Linked DNA regions of Homo sapiens. The protein of the gene in region 2 purifies or fractionates together with the protein of the main gene of each other region. This does not show direct contact. Each region holds a gene or a part of one and is shown on either strand. Other genes may lie near its edges.

What was found.
Region 1: the proteins of KLHL14 (region 2) and KCTD21 purify together in Homo sapiens (affinity purification with mass spectrometry; 3 studies listed by BioGRID and IntAct, with this or other methods). This does not show direct contact.

The regions. Positions count from the first base shown.
Region 1 is NC_000011.10:78,178,503-78,185,775, reverse strand, and holds part of KCTD21 (BTB/POZ domain-containing protein KCTD21), read left to right. Parts: intron 1-7,273. UniProt on the Homo sapiens protein: Probable substrate-specific adapter of a BCR (BTB-CUL3-RBX1) E3 ubiquitin-protein ligase complex mediating the ubiquitination and subsequent proteasomal degradation of target proteins. Promotes the ubiquitination of HDAC1.
Region 2 is NC_000018.10:32,769,911-32,777,727, forward strand, and holds the start of KLHL14 (kelch-like protein 14), read right to left. Parts: upstream 3,114-7,817; 5' UTR 2,757-3,113; intron 2,378-2,756; exon of another isoform or gene 766-2,377; intron 725-765; 5' UTR 682-724; coding exon 1-681.

The DNA.
Region 1 (7,273 bases), on a different chromosome or scaffold from region 2:
TACTAAAAATACAAAAATTAGCCGGGCATGGTGGCACGCACCTGAAATCCCAGCTACTCAGGAGGCTGAGGCAGGAGAATCACTTGAACCTGGGAGGCAGAGGTCGCAGTGAGCCAGGATCACGCCACTGCACTCCAAACTGGGTGACAGAGCGAGACTCTATCTCAAAAAAAAAAAATAGGCCTAGTGGTGTGGTTTCTGTGGGTGGTGGCTCTATCCAGACTGCCCACCCAGGCTTAGATTCTAACTCCTCCACCACTTAGCCCTGGTTGGCATCCTCACCCTTCAAAATTCAGAAACACTTGGGAAGGAAAATTATGAGCTTTTCACACTTCTAAGTAGTAGTAGTAAATCTGTAACTTACTAAATCTGGCGACTTATTGGGGTCTGGCACAATGACTGTAACTTTACATCTATTGGCCCTATGAAGAAGTGTTCTTCCCCCCTCTTTTAAAATACAAATATTTTTAAAATTTTCAAGCTTACATAAAAGCTTAAAGTACAACCCTTAACCTAGATACGCCAAATCACAATTTGCCAATTGTGCTTTTACACAAACACACACTTTTTTGGCCCAATTATTTAAAAGTAAGTTACAGATATGTTGATTGACGTTTGACCCCTAAATTCTTCAACATGTATCCCCTAATAAGGGCGTTCTACTACATAGCCATAATACATTATATGTAATAAGCAAGAAGTCAGTATTACCCAATGTAATAGTTATTCAAAATTTTCTGCCAGGTGCAATGGGTCATGTCTATAACCCCAGCACTTTGGGAAGCAAAGGCAGACAGATTGCTTGAGCCCAGGAGTTCAAGGCCAGCCTGGGCAACATAGTGAAACCCCATCTCTACAAAAACTACAAAATTTAGCATGGTGTGGTAGCGTGCACCTGTAGTCCCAGCTACTTGGGAAAATCACCTGAGCCTGGGGATGTCAAGGCTGCAGTGAACCATGATCGCGCCACTGCACTCCAGCCTGGGCGACAGAGTGAGACCCTGTCTCAAGAAAAAAAAAATTCTAATTGCCCAAAAATACCTTATATAGTTTCTGGTTTTTAAAATCAGATCCAGTCAAGATGTACATATTGCATCCTATTATATCTCTTTTATCAACTCATTTAATCTAAATAGAGCCCCTTGGCATGGTAGCTCATGTCTGTAATCCCAACATTTTGGGAGGCTGAGGTGGGCAGATCACTTGAGGTCAGGAGTTCGAGACCAGCCTGGCCAACATGGTGATACCCCATCTCAAGTAAAAATACAAAAATTAGCCGGACATGGTGGTGTGTGCCTATACTCCCAGCTACTCAGGAGGCTGAGGCAAGAGAATTGCTTGAACTCAGGAGGTGGAGGTTGCAGTGAGCCGAGATTGTGCCACTGCACTCCAGCCTGGGCAACAGAGTGTGACTCTATCTCAAATAAATAAATAAATAAATAAATAGAGCTTCTCCACCTATTTAAATATGTTTGATTGGTTTATCAATGATTAGATTGGGGTTAGATTTAAGTTTTTGGCAATGTGTGTACTTACTGCATGTCAGGAGGATATGATGTCAGGGTCTTACTATCCATGAATGCTAAATTTGATTATTAAGGTCATGGCAACCTGATCTCTCTATCGTAAAGGTAAATTTTTCTCTCTTACAATTAATAAGTAATCTGTGAAGTGATTCTCTGAGTCTGTTATAATTATGTGTTCCTGATAACCTTTCACACCACATCCTTGGATGATCCTTGCTTGAATTACAACACTGAGGGTTGCAAATTGGTAATTTTCTAATTCTGCCATTCCTTCTGTGTTTATTAGTGTTCTTTTTTATAGAATTAATTTTTCCTGGCCGGGTGCGGTGGCTCACGCCTGTAATCCCAGCACTTTGGGAGGCCGAGGCGGGCGGATCACGAGGTCAGGAGATCGAGACCATCCTGGCTAACAAGGTGAAACCCTGTCTCCACTAAAAATACAAAAAATTAGCCGAGCGAGGTGGCGGGCGCCTGTAGTCTCAGCTACTCGGGAGGCTGAGGCAGGAGAATGGCGTGAACCCTGGGAGGCGGAGGTTGCAGTGAGCCGAAATCACACCACTGCACTCCAGCCTGGGCGACAGTGAGACTCCGTCTCAAAAAAAAAAAAAAAGAATTAATTTTTCCTGTCTCTATCTTTCTCACTCCCTTCTTCTCACCCTCTTTTTTCTTTTGGGAATAACATTATGGACTCTTGTTTTTTGTTTGTTTGTTTTTGAGATGGAGTCTCACTCTGTTGCCCTGGCTGGTGTGCAGTGGCACGATCTTGGCTCACTGCAACCTCCACTTCCCAGATTCAAGCGATTCTCCTGCCTCAGCCTCCCAAGTAGCTGGAATAACAGGCGCACGCCACCCCGCCCAGCTATTTTTTGTATTTTTAGTAGAGATGGGGTTTTGCCATGTTAGCCAGGCTGGTCTTGAACTCCAGACCTCAGGTGATCCGCCCGCCTCGGCCTCCCAAAGTGCTGAGATTACAGGCATGAACTACCGCACCCAGCCTGGACTCTTGTTTTGTTGTTGTTGTTTTTTAATTCACTGGGCTATATGAACTCACCTTGAACTTTTCCTGTGAAAGTCCAGGAATCATCAGTTTCTCCAGGAAGCCCTGGTTTCTTTTAGAAGAGATGATGACATTCAGAAACAAAGATCCAGGGCTAGGTGTGTTTATTGCTACTGGGTGTCATTTCTAGGCTCTGTGAGTGAGCAGAGCTAGGAAATGATGGATAGGTGATTGATAGATAGATGATAGATGGACAATTTTCATTACTCAGTACATTTATTGTTACAACAGCTAGTCCCCACTGACAGGATTGCATGGTAAGTCATTTCATTATGGAAGTAATGCTCATTATGGAAGTGGACAGTAATGTAGGAAAAAAGGAAATTGCACAGAAAAGAGCTCTTGCCTACTCCAGGTCGCCATGAGTATACAGACTGTTGGCTAGGACCTCTGTGGCTGGGTTCAGCTTCCTGCCGAAGACGTCTAAAGGACTGGTTCTCTGAAGGGTGTCCAAACCAGAACTTCCCAGAGGCCATGACTCTGAGGTCAAGAATCCACATGAAGCCCTGGGCAAGGGATTCACGCTCTTTGGGTCTGCTTTAGGTTGTCTTTGAAACAAAGACAATGTAATCGGTCCTGCCTGGGTCCCAGAGTTGTAAGGATCAATATATTTATCAATATGTTTATTTTTAAACATTGCTAGTTGTGTCTCTTCACATTTATTACCAAATTCCTTCTCTTCTCATTGTTTTAAAACCACAGAGGGAAATGTCATTGCTTTATAATCTAGTTTAATACATTGCGCTAAGATGTCTTATTCAAATACTCTTTCAGGTTATCAGTCATCAGTGCTTCCAGATTAAAATTTTAATTATTTAAATCTTTTTTGAAAAATACTATTGGGATTTGGATTAGGATAGCATAACAACTATAATTAATTTTGAGGGGGGGGGGGTGCTTTGGGATAAGGCCTGGCTCTGTCACCCAAACCAGAGTGCAGTGGCACAGTCTTGGCTCACTGCAACCTCCACCTACTGGGACAAAACCAATTATTAAAATAGAAGAAGTTCCTATAGCTATTATCACTTGGGAAATTACACAGTTTTTAGCCCTGGCCAACAGCTGGGGACAAATCTAAAATGTATATTGCTTATTATATCACAGTATCACACAACCCCTCCCCTGAGTGCAAGGCGGTGACTATGCAGACGTGAGACATGCAGTTGCTCTCAGCTCACAAACTAGGCAGTGGTTTCCAAAAAAAATTGTTTTGTCAGCCACAGTATGAAGATACCATGATCCAGTTCATAGACACACAACTGAAACAAAAGTTTCACAACAATATATAATTGGTTACAACCCACTTAACTGTATTGATGTCATGACTTGCCAATAGGTCACAACCTTCATTTTTTTTCCTGTTTATGGAGGTAAAACTTAAGTATGGTAAAATTTACACTTTTTTTTTAATTGAGACAGGGGTCTTACTATGTTTTCCAGGCTGGTCTTGAACTCCTGGGCTCAAGTGACCCTCCTGCCTCGGCCTCTCAAAGTACTGGGATTATAGGCATGAACCACCACAGCTGGCCACAATTCACCCTTTTAGATGTGTATGGTTACATGAATTTTGACAGTCTTTATAAACACATTTGACCACCACCACATCATATTACTTTTGTGCCAACCTAATAGAATATTCCCATCACTCCAAAATATGCCTTGTGTTTCTTTGTAACCAGTCTTTTCCCTCCAACCCAGCCCCAAGAATTCACTTAATCTGATTTCTGTCTTTATAGTTTTGCCTTTGCCAGAACGTTATACAGATAGAGTCATGTACCATGTAACCTTCTGAGGCTGGCTTCTTTCACTTGACGTAATGCTTTTGAAATTCATGTATGTGGTAATGTCTTTTAGTAGTTCCTATATATTGCTGAGTCATATTCTATTGTATGGATGTACTGCAATTTATCTGTTTACAATTAGTTGTTTCTGAGTTTGGGCAATTATGAATAAGCTGCCATAAACATTCACATATGAGTCTTTGCATGGACATATGTCTCCATTTCTCCGGCATAAATACCTAGGAGTAGGGTCATTGGGTCACGTGATAATTGTATGCTGTATTAGTCCATTCTCACACTGCTAATAACAACATACCCCAGACTGGCTAATTTACAAAGGAAAGAGGTTTAATTGACTCACGGTTCCACAGGACTAGGGAGGCCTCAGGAAACTTAAAATAATGGTGGAAGGGGAAGCAAACATGTCTTTCTTCACATGGCAGCAGCAAGGAGAAGTGCCAAGCGAAGGGGGAAACCCCTTATAAAACCATCAGATCTCTTAAGAACTCACTATCACAAGAACAGCATGAGGAAAACCGCCCCAATGATTCAATCATCTCCACCTAGTCCTGCCCTTGACACATGGGGATTATTACAATTCAAGGTGAGATTTGGGTGGGGACACAGAGCCAAACCATACCATATGTCAAACTATTTTCAACAGCGGTTACCATTTGTCAGCAGTGTATGAGGTTTCCATTGTTCTATGTACTCACCTTCAATTGGCATTGTCAGTTTTTATATGAGCCACTAATAGGTATATAGTAGCATATAATTGTGGTTTCAATTTTCATACTCTCATGACTGATGATATTGACCATCTTTTCATGTGATTGTCAGTCATCTGCATATCTTCTTTGCTGGAGTATTTGTTAGATCTTTTGTCTAGTTGTTTTGTTTTTGTTTTTGTTTAAGTAGAGATAGGGTTTCACCATGTCGGCCAGGCTGTTCTTGAACTCCTGGCCTCAAGTGATCTGCCCGCCTCAGCCTCCCAAAGTGCTGGGATTACAGGCATGTGCCACTGCACCCAGCTTTATGTGTTTTTTAATTGGGTTATTTTCTTACTGAGTTTTGAGAGTTCTTTATATATTCTGGTTAACAATCCTTTATCAGATAGGTGTTTTGCAAATATTTTCTCCATCTGTGTCTTATTCTTTCATTTTCTTAACAGTGTCTTTTGAAGAGCAGAAGTTTTTTACGTGGATGAAGTCTAGTTTATTGATGTTTTTAATGGTTTGTCCCTTTTAGGTCCTATCCAAGAAATCTTTGCCTAATCCACAGTTGCAAAGATTTTCTCCTAGAAGTTGTGTAGTTTTAGATTTTATATTTAGGTCTATGATATGTTCTGAGTTTATTTTTCATAAACAGCATAAGAGATGGACCAAGGTTCTTTTTTTCCCCATATGGATGTCCACTGATCTGCATTTTGAGATAGCCAGGGAAGAGGGCCATGTGCAAAGGAGATCGCTGCAGGTGGAATGCTGGGTGCTGCCAGAGGGGGTTGTGCAAGGCACCAGGAAGCCCTGAGAGGAGAGCTGTTAACCTAGTGGAGATCTGGGGACAGTAGTACAGAGGTGATGACTCATAGGCTGGGCCTGAAAGGTAGACAGCAGAGAGGGTAGAGAAGGTAGACAGGGGTGGTCTAGGGACAGCAAAGGCAGGGCAGGTGTCAGCATGAAGGAGACTGACTCAGTGGCGTCTGGCGTGCGTGGAGGGCAGGGTTAGACATGAGAGGGAAAGAGGAAGGTGGTTGGGCAGGGACGGTACTTCAGGAAGGTCAGTCTGCAGACCAGAAAGGAAGGTGGACAGAAGGCAGGGAGCCGAGTGAGGATGTAGGGGTGCAGGGGGCAGGGATGAGGCCTGAGCTCTGGGAGTAGCTATAGGGATGGGTTCAAGGAGATAGTCAAGACAAACTGTAGGGCTGAAGAGTCGGGGCTGCTTCCCTCAGGCAGTTGGGTGGCTCAGAAGAGTTCACAGCAGAGTTAGGGGCAGAGGAAGGCACAGGTGAGGCTTCTGGTACCTGTGTTACTGGTGGAGGGTCTTGACTAGGAATTTTCCAGGTCCTTGGCGTTTTGAACAAAGTAGCAGAGGGGCAGACGTGGTAATCCCCACACTTTGGGAGGCCTGGATGGGCAGATCACTTGAGGTCAGTCCAAGACCGGCCTGGCCAACGTGGTGAAACCCGTCTCTACTAAAAAAAAAAAAAGTAAAAATAAAAAGAGTAGCAGGGGAATGAAATGCAGGAATGAAGCAGTGAAAGCAGGAATTAAAGTGAGAAAGCACTCCTCAGGGTGGGAGTGGGCCGGAGCAAGGAACTCAAAGGCCCAGTTACAAAGTTCTCTGGGCTTTAGGTACCCCATTTGAGGTTCTTATCAGCTACTCCTTATCTGGACGAAGGATTTAGTCTGTGGCTAATTAAAGGCTGAGGTGAATGGGCACCCTATGCAGATAAAGGGATGGTCCCAATCCAAGGCCCCCCTCCCTTTCCACCTGAGACATGGTGGAGTGGGAGGGTTGCAAAGAGGAGCGTTTGATCCTTTGTCACCCAGCTGGGGCGATGGCGTTTTTCCTCTTGGTTCAGCTTTAGGAATTTGGTGTTAATTGGTCTTAGGGTCCCTGCCCCCAGACCCAGGATTTTCCTTCTGATCCAGCTTTGGGAAGTCAACAGAATTGGCCTCAGATTTTTTGCCCCAGACCTTGGTGTTTTCTCTTTTATGAAGTTAGCACAAATTGGCCTTAAGTTCCTTGTCTCCAAACCTTGTTCTCCTGCCTCACTTGCAGAATATCCAAGTGGAGGTGGCCAGGAGGCATCTGGGAACACATAGGGGACTGAGGCTCAGTGGTGTTAGTTCATTACTACCTGACTGCAAACCTCCGCCGACTCATGAAACTCCCCTCGTGTCATGTCA
Region 2 (7,817 bases):
CGAGTCCAGCAGGGCGCGCATCTCCTCGAAGTTGAGCAGCAGCACATCCTCCACCAGGTACTTGTTGGCCAGCTTCTTGGTCTCCTCCAGGCCGTGCAGCGCGGCGATCTTGCACACCTGCTTGTAGTTCTGCACCGAGATCTGGTCGTTGAGGAACTGCACGCAGAGCTTGGTGACCTGGGGGATGTGCAGGATCTTGCTGACCGACAGCACCTCCTCCACCGTGTCCAGGGACAGGGTCACGTTGGCCGTGTAGAGGTACTCGAGCACCAGGCGCAGCCCGATGGACGAGCAGCCCTGCAGCACCAGGTTGTTGATGGCCCGGGGGCTGGTCAGCAGCTTGTCGTCGGGGGAGGAAGAAGGAGTCCCGGGCTCCTCCTGCGGCGGCGGCTGCTGCTGCTGTGACGGCTGCTGCTGCGGCGGCTGCTGCTGGTCCTTGGGGGCCCCCAGGCCGTCCTGGCCGCCGACCCCTCCCCCGAGAGGGGGGTGGCTGGAGAAGAGCGATCGGAAGTACTGCGAGCAGGAGGCCAGCACGGCCTTGTGGCAATGGAACTGCTGGCCCTGGGCCGTCAGGGTCACGTCGCAAAACAGCTGCTTCCTCCACAGCAGGTTGAGGCCGTGCAGCAGGTTGTCGCTGTGGCTGGGGTCGAAGGTGGAGGTCCTGTCCCCGGATCTGGACATGGCGAGCTGACTCGGTGCACCTGGCTTTAAACCCTCCTCCAACCTGGCAGACAGGGGTGGGGGATGGGAGGGAGGGGAGCAGGGTGGTGGAGCGGGTGGGGTGTGGTCGGGGTGGGGAAGGGTGTGGAGGGGAGGGGAGGGCGAAGAACAAGAATCAAGGCTCAGCTTGACTCCCTCCTGGCGCGCTCCGGACCCCGACCCTAGGAGGAAAGTCCGAAGACGCTGGATCCGTGAGCGCCACCAGAAGGGCCCTGTCTGGGGTCCCGGCGCCGGTTCTGCGCCCTGCGGCTCCTCTCGCCACCTCCCACACACTTCGTCCCTCACTTTCCTAAAACCAACCACCTCAGCTCGGCTGTTGGCAGCAACAGCAGTGGCAGCAGCGACGGCAAAGTGGCGGCTGAGGCCGAGGCACCTCGTGGGCTCGTGTCCATGCCGGGCCAGATGAAGGGAAAGGCCGGGAAGTGGGGAGCCGGGGGTGCCCTGAAAGCTCAGAGGCGACCGACGGCGAAGGTTCCAGGTCAACTTGTGCCCGAAGCTTTGCTTTTCGCAGTTGGCCCAGTTTGGGGGAGGGGGTAGGAACAGGGGCCCGACCAGCGTGCGGGGTGTGCGAATCTTAGCTCTCCAAAAGCTGGGACCCCCTTCGATTATCCATGCTGCCCCGAGAAACTCCTAGGCTAATAGTCTGAGGGAGGAGATAAAGCCCTTTCTTCTCCCGGGAAAGTGCAGCGGAGCGCGGTGAGGACCCGCTCAGTGGAATCGGCAGAGGCGGGAGCTGTCCTTATCAATTCGAGCTCATTTCCCTCAACCTGGCCCTGCCCGCTTCCCCGCTTCGCAAACTGTTGGCTTCCCCGTCACCACTCAGTTTGGCTAATTTTCCAGAGATGGCTTTAAACCTGGCAGGAGAATCCTTCCACCACCGCCACCCCCACCCGGTGGCCCCCTCTCCCCCGTCTCGCTCATTTCAAAGCGCGGAAGTTCAGGCATCAATCTCCCCTTCCAGCGAGGGGCGGCACCGAGGACTCAGGGGGAGGAAGTGGGGCTGCGAGGACGCGTTTGGAGAGGGAGCCGGGAGGCCTGGAGGCCGGGAGGGATTCGTGTGCACGGTTTCCCCTCCCGGGCACCAGGCGCAGTCGCTTTAACTCCAGTAACTATGAGAAGTTCAAGTTAGAAGGCAGGTGTTGGGGGAGGGGTGGGGGCTGTCGAACGAGCGGGGGGGCGGGGGAGCAGTGGGGTGCGGGGTCTCTGCGCCCCACCCAGCATCGTCGCCTGCAGCCGCAGCTCCCTTCTGACCCCCTCGGTAGAGCCCCCAGCGGCCCCCCACTCGGGCACCCCCACTTCCCCGGCCCTGGAACTACTTCTGTAAAAAGTCTGAGCCGCCCGCATCTAGGCAGAGGAGGGCAGGGTGGGGGAGGCGAGGCGAAATCGATACGCCAGGTCCTTAACCTGTAATTGCACCTTCCAGGGCTGAGCAGAAAGGGACCCTCTGCTTGCATCCCGCCCGCGCGCCGGCCCGCCGGCCCGCCGGCCCGCCCGCCCGGGGGAGAGCCGCCGCCGCCGCCCGGCTCGGAGGGATCCCGGCGGACCTGCCCCTTCCACTGCGGCTCACTCTGCCCTGCCTGGCGCCGGTCCTGGATCGCCGGCTTCCTATTTATACCGGACTGGGCTCCTTTCGACTCACTTTACCATCCCGTTCCAGGTGGACCCTACCCTCCCTCGCGCTCCCTCCGCCGGCAGCACCCCCACGCCCGCCCCCAAAGCTCTGGCTTGCCTGAAACATCTTACAGAGTCTCTCTCCCTTTAAGAGGACCCGGTCATACCTCTCTCTAGCTCTCTCCGCTTCGTTGTCTCCCCCCGCCCCATCTTTTCCTATTCCCCTTCCTTCTTGTTCTTCTCCCTTGCCTTTCCTCCTCATCTGCTTATTTCTTGCAATAGGAGTTTTTTCTTTATGAGCGTTTGCCATACAACTACCCCCCCGCCAACCCCTCTGAAAGACTCCCTCCCCGGCCCTTCCCCCTCCAACAATCCAAAAGACAGAACAAAATACACACAAGGCAGACACAAGGCCAGAAACTTACCTGTTCTCAACCAGCTGCAAAGTCAAGGCTCACTTAAGCTCCCCCCAAAAATCAATTGTCCTTCCTTTTTAAAGGTTTGCTGTCTCCTTGGGAGGGGGAAAACACCTTCTGGTTCCCAACTCCAGGCAGTCACTCTTTACAATTTATTTTGTCGTACATCATTTGATCACCATGAATTAGCAACAGCAAGAAAATGTAGGAGAGGGAGAAAAGAGAGAAAGAGAGAGGGAGAGAGAGAGGGAGCAGAGCTTTCTGCAAGAGAAGAAGAAGAAAAAATGTACGTGTGACAAATTATGCTACCAAGAAACAACACATCATTATCCTTGGGCCTGGGGCTCAGTGAGTCGTAACGAGAGTAATAGGAAATCCACGGTTGGGGAGAGAAACGGTCGTGCTTGGCCAGTAGAGAGAGACCATACAGGGGGATGGATGCTGGAGAGACTCGCAAAATTATGGCTCAAGGCTATTGTAAAAATTGTCGAGCGTAAATGACTGCGATTTCAAACATCTTTGGAAGAAAGAAGGGGAAAAAGCGAGCCCCCCCTCCCTCCCTCTCCCTCTCTCTCCCTCTCTCTTCTCTCTCTCTATAAAGAACCGTCAAGTTTTAGTGCGCATTGCTAATTAGTCAATTTCTCTCTGCCTTCACAGGCTGGCGACTTCGCTGCTGAGCTGAAACTGCTAATTTCTGTGACCAGCTTTTTTCTTAGCTGTGATCTGGATGAATGAGTAGCTGTCTCACAGAGATGACAAAAATAAACTCTAATCCCCCCCAAAATTTCCACTACATCTTTCTCATGCATAGATTTATGATCTTCAAGTGCTCTGTGCAATATGCAAACTTTTTTTGTGTCTGTATATATGCTGTTGTTTCCAGATTTCACTACATTGGTATGCTGCTTTTCCCTTCCCCCCACACCTCCCCCCCACCCCCAGCACTGTGAAATGCAGAAACAGTCTGATCTCAAAGTATGCTAAGACACTACTTTATTCTGTTTTGGTATTTGGGGTTTGGGTCTGTCCTGAAAGACACTAGCCCTTGCCTAAAAGGTGAGTGGCTGAGGATACACACCGGGGTGGGGGAGTAGAGCTGGTAGACAGAATAGAGGACAGCCCTTTGCTTTACATTTGCTTCCCACAAGGCACTGTTCAAGGTTTATGATCTTATTTGAAAACATATTTTCTCTATCATTTTGTCTGGTTAAACAACTGCCTCTGAACTTCTCTGTCAGCTCTTCAACAGATAAGGGTGCAGAAGTCACGTTTTTTTTTTTTTTTTTTTTTTACTGAAAGATTATCATATTGTTGGATTTGTATTTCAATTAGGAGTCTTTGATTTGCAGGAGCTAGAATCAAGTGCTAGGAAACCCAGCCGCAATTTCACAAATGTAACCTTTCAACTTTAGAGCTCATCTGATATATAAGGGCAACCACATAGTGCTCACATTTTTGACCCTGCTTAGCATGCAAAAGGAACCCCAGCATGTTTCTGGAATTTTAGCTGTACCAGAGATTCATGTGCATTTTGGTAGAGGACATGTTCTCCAGACTTATCTCATGATGTATTGCACCCTTATGTTTATAGCCCTGCATTTCGGTTGTCAATGGGGGTTGGAGGTGTCCAAGAAAGAAAGAAAAAAAAGAAGCAGAAAAAGGAAGGTATGCCCTTGAGTAAAATGAACACGAAGAAAGCTGGACATGAACTAAATTGAGCTTTGTTTGCTATTAACTATATGACTATGATTCATTCTAATTTATATGTGCTCTGATTAGTAAACTTATTAAAATACGTATCAGGGCACCATTGCAAGACATCTATTCAGACCCCCCATCATCCTCTTTGATTTGTGAGAGATGGAAAGACACCTGCTTAGGAAAGGGAGGAAAATTAAAAATTCTGAGGTTCAGAAATAGGGATTCCCCATTTACAATGATAACATTAACGTGCACATGGGATAGTCACACTTAAATGAATTAAGAAGGATCAAACTGAAGCATTTAACCCTCACAAAGCCCCCCCACTTTTTTTGTCAAGGTTCTAGATTATCTGAGAGTAAGACTTCTTTATTCAGATCCTGTTGAGATGCTGCATTCTCATATTTATGTTTATAGTGGAAATGCCCCAATACATGATTAAATCATAGAAAAGAATTTTGCTGTTGTTGTTGTTTAGGGCAGAGGAGAGAAAGACAACAGATTATACAATTCTCCTGGCCCTATTATTGTTTTGATTTTTGTTTAAATTTCCCTTATTTGGGTGTTGAACAGGAAGATCATGTGACTCTAAGATAGAACATTTTTGGAGTTCTGTGTCACTAGCAATTAAAGCTATCAAGTATGTGGAGTGTCACAAAACTCTCATACATGTAAAGTGCAATTTTTATATTATGATTTTGATGTTGATCTTTTATGAACTTCTCATGAAGTATTTGGAACTAAGCCCAAAGGCAATAATAGTATTGATCACTTAAATTATGGCCACCTTCCTGTTTTATCTTGAAAGAATTAAAGTATGTTTGTAGGCCTCAAAATAACTTAGTTTCAAATTTCTATTTTTTTATGGATAGGATATATTGACCACTAATTATGATTACCAGGCTCTTTATTGCTTCCAAACAATATAAAAGCCACATTTCAAAAATTTTAGCTACCTATAATTTTAATGCTTATTTAACAACTAGGGTGGAAAGGGAAGAGAGTGGGATTGGGAGCTGGCAATTCTAAAATGGCTGTTGAAGTGGATAAAAACATTTTCTTCTGCATTCTAAAGTTATCTGATAATGTTTAAATTTCAGAAAAAAATACAATTCTGGTTATTGTATAAGCAATTAAAAAAGAATATTGATAAAGGGTCCCTTCATAATCTGTGCATAAACTAGCATATATGTCATGTAAATCTCACACCTCCAGTATCTTATACTGGCTTTGACTGAAATTATTGCAGAACTCACAAATGAGACGACACTATTTACAATAAATCTCGTTATGAAAGATTCAATTTGCAGCAATCAGATGCTAGCTACTAAGCGATTTTAAGTATTTGAATTTTATCCTACTTCAGTGTTCAACATACAGAAATTGCATCTGTGTGTTTGATCTGTCCTGCTGAGCGCTATCAGCAGCTTGCATCTCTGCCACTATTGTTTTTAAAATGGCAGGAAGGACGTGACTAGTCAGGAGCACTCAGCAGGATGGATTTCACGTGGCATAAGAGGAGCCAGAATTGTCTTTTTTAAAAAAAAATTAAATATGATTGTGTAGTCATCTAATGCAAGCCATCTTCATACTTCGATAGAATTATCAAAATTATTCATTAGTGAATTTGCATTTAAACCATGTACAATGGAAAGATTCTGAAACTATGGCCACTGAGCAGTCTACTAGAGCTGCCATTAGTTTCTAGTGGTCTGGTCAGCCTTCAAGGTGGCAGAGATCCAGGCCTATCAGTGGTTCCAGTTGCTCAGGATCATCTCACTGGACTGGAGGAACTGAAGATTATCTTTAGAGCAGTTCTAGAAATGTTTTGCTGCTTAACATATAGGGGCAGCCACACTGAATCTTTATTTTCCTTATTCTTGACTTTTCTGCTTAGGATTTATGAGTTATCACCAAATTGCATAAACATCAGAGCCTGGTCTCCCCTGTGTCTTTTGGATAGTAAACACTATTTCAATGTGATCTGACCTTTAAGATTACTGTCATTGTGGAATGGATGTATAAGGGAAGAAATTATTCCATTTTACACATGGAATAAAATTGAGTAAAGAGGGATCACATAGCTCCTTCAAAGTTAGGGAGTGGCAAAACCCAGGCACAACTCAAGATTTCTAGTTTTTTTTTTTTTTTTAAATCTTGAGTAGATGGGTCAAAGATATCACAGAACCATCAGCACTGAGAAGCTTATTAAAGAACACAAAATCTGAAATAACAATAAGAAATGGTGCTATTGGCTAACATTTAGGCAAAAGCCAATGGTTTGCTATTGCTCTGCTGTCAAGCCCAACTCTGTGGCTCACATTCCGGGTTCCCAGTATTTAGCTCTAGCTCCTCTGGGCAGCCTGTTCTGGACACGCTCCACTGTTAAACTGCAGCACCTATTGTTAGGCTGTGTCTTTTTGAGAGGCCTTCATTCTCTACAAATAGAAATTCCACTTACCTCTCAAGAGTAAACTCAGATTTCTTTCCACTATAAAACTTTTCCTGGCAACCTCTAACAGAATAATAATGGCTACTACTTATTGAGTTTATTACTGCATGGTGGACACTGTTCCAAATCCTTCAGATGTTTTATTTTCTTAATCCTCTTGCTAATCCTATGGAAGACTATGGCAGATTGCAAAAATACCTCCATGTCTCCACCCTTCCTGGTATACACACTACATTATAATATGGCTTTGCTGCTCTTCTCATCAAGAGTGGAATCGACTTACCTAATCCTTGAATGTGAGCTGGCCTTGTAACTTGCTTTGACCAATGGAATGTGCCAGAAGCGACCTTGTGCCAATTCTGAGTCTAAGCTTCAAGAGGCCTTGTGTGTTTCAACTCTCCCTCTTAGAGCCCTGCCAGATACCATGTGATGAAGCCCAGGCTAGCCTGGTAGAAGATGACACATCACATGGACAAAACATTCCCCAGATTGCCCAATAGCTGAACTCAGATGCATGAATGAGCCCAGCTGAGACAGGAGAACCAACATGCTCCAAATGACAGATCCACAGAACCCTGAGCTACATCAATGGCTGCTGTTTCAAGTCATTAGCTTTTGGGGTGATTTGTTCCATAGCCAAATTAGCTGCTGAAGAAAGGTACAATTATTATCATTTTACCAATGAGCAAAATGAAATGCAGAGAAATCACGTAAATTTTTCAGAATCACACAACTTTTCAAAAGTAGTGCTTAGGTTCAAACCAACACAGCCTGACTCCAGGGATTTACCATTCTACTGTACTGGCCACAAAAGAAATGCCTGCCTCTAGGAAACATTTGTTTATTTATTCATGCATTCATTCATTCATCAAGTATATATTAAGTATCTATTGAACACCAAACACTGTGCTAAACAT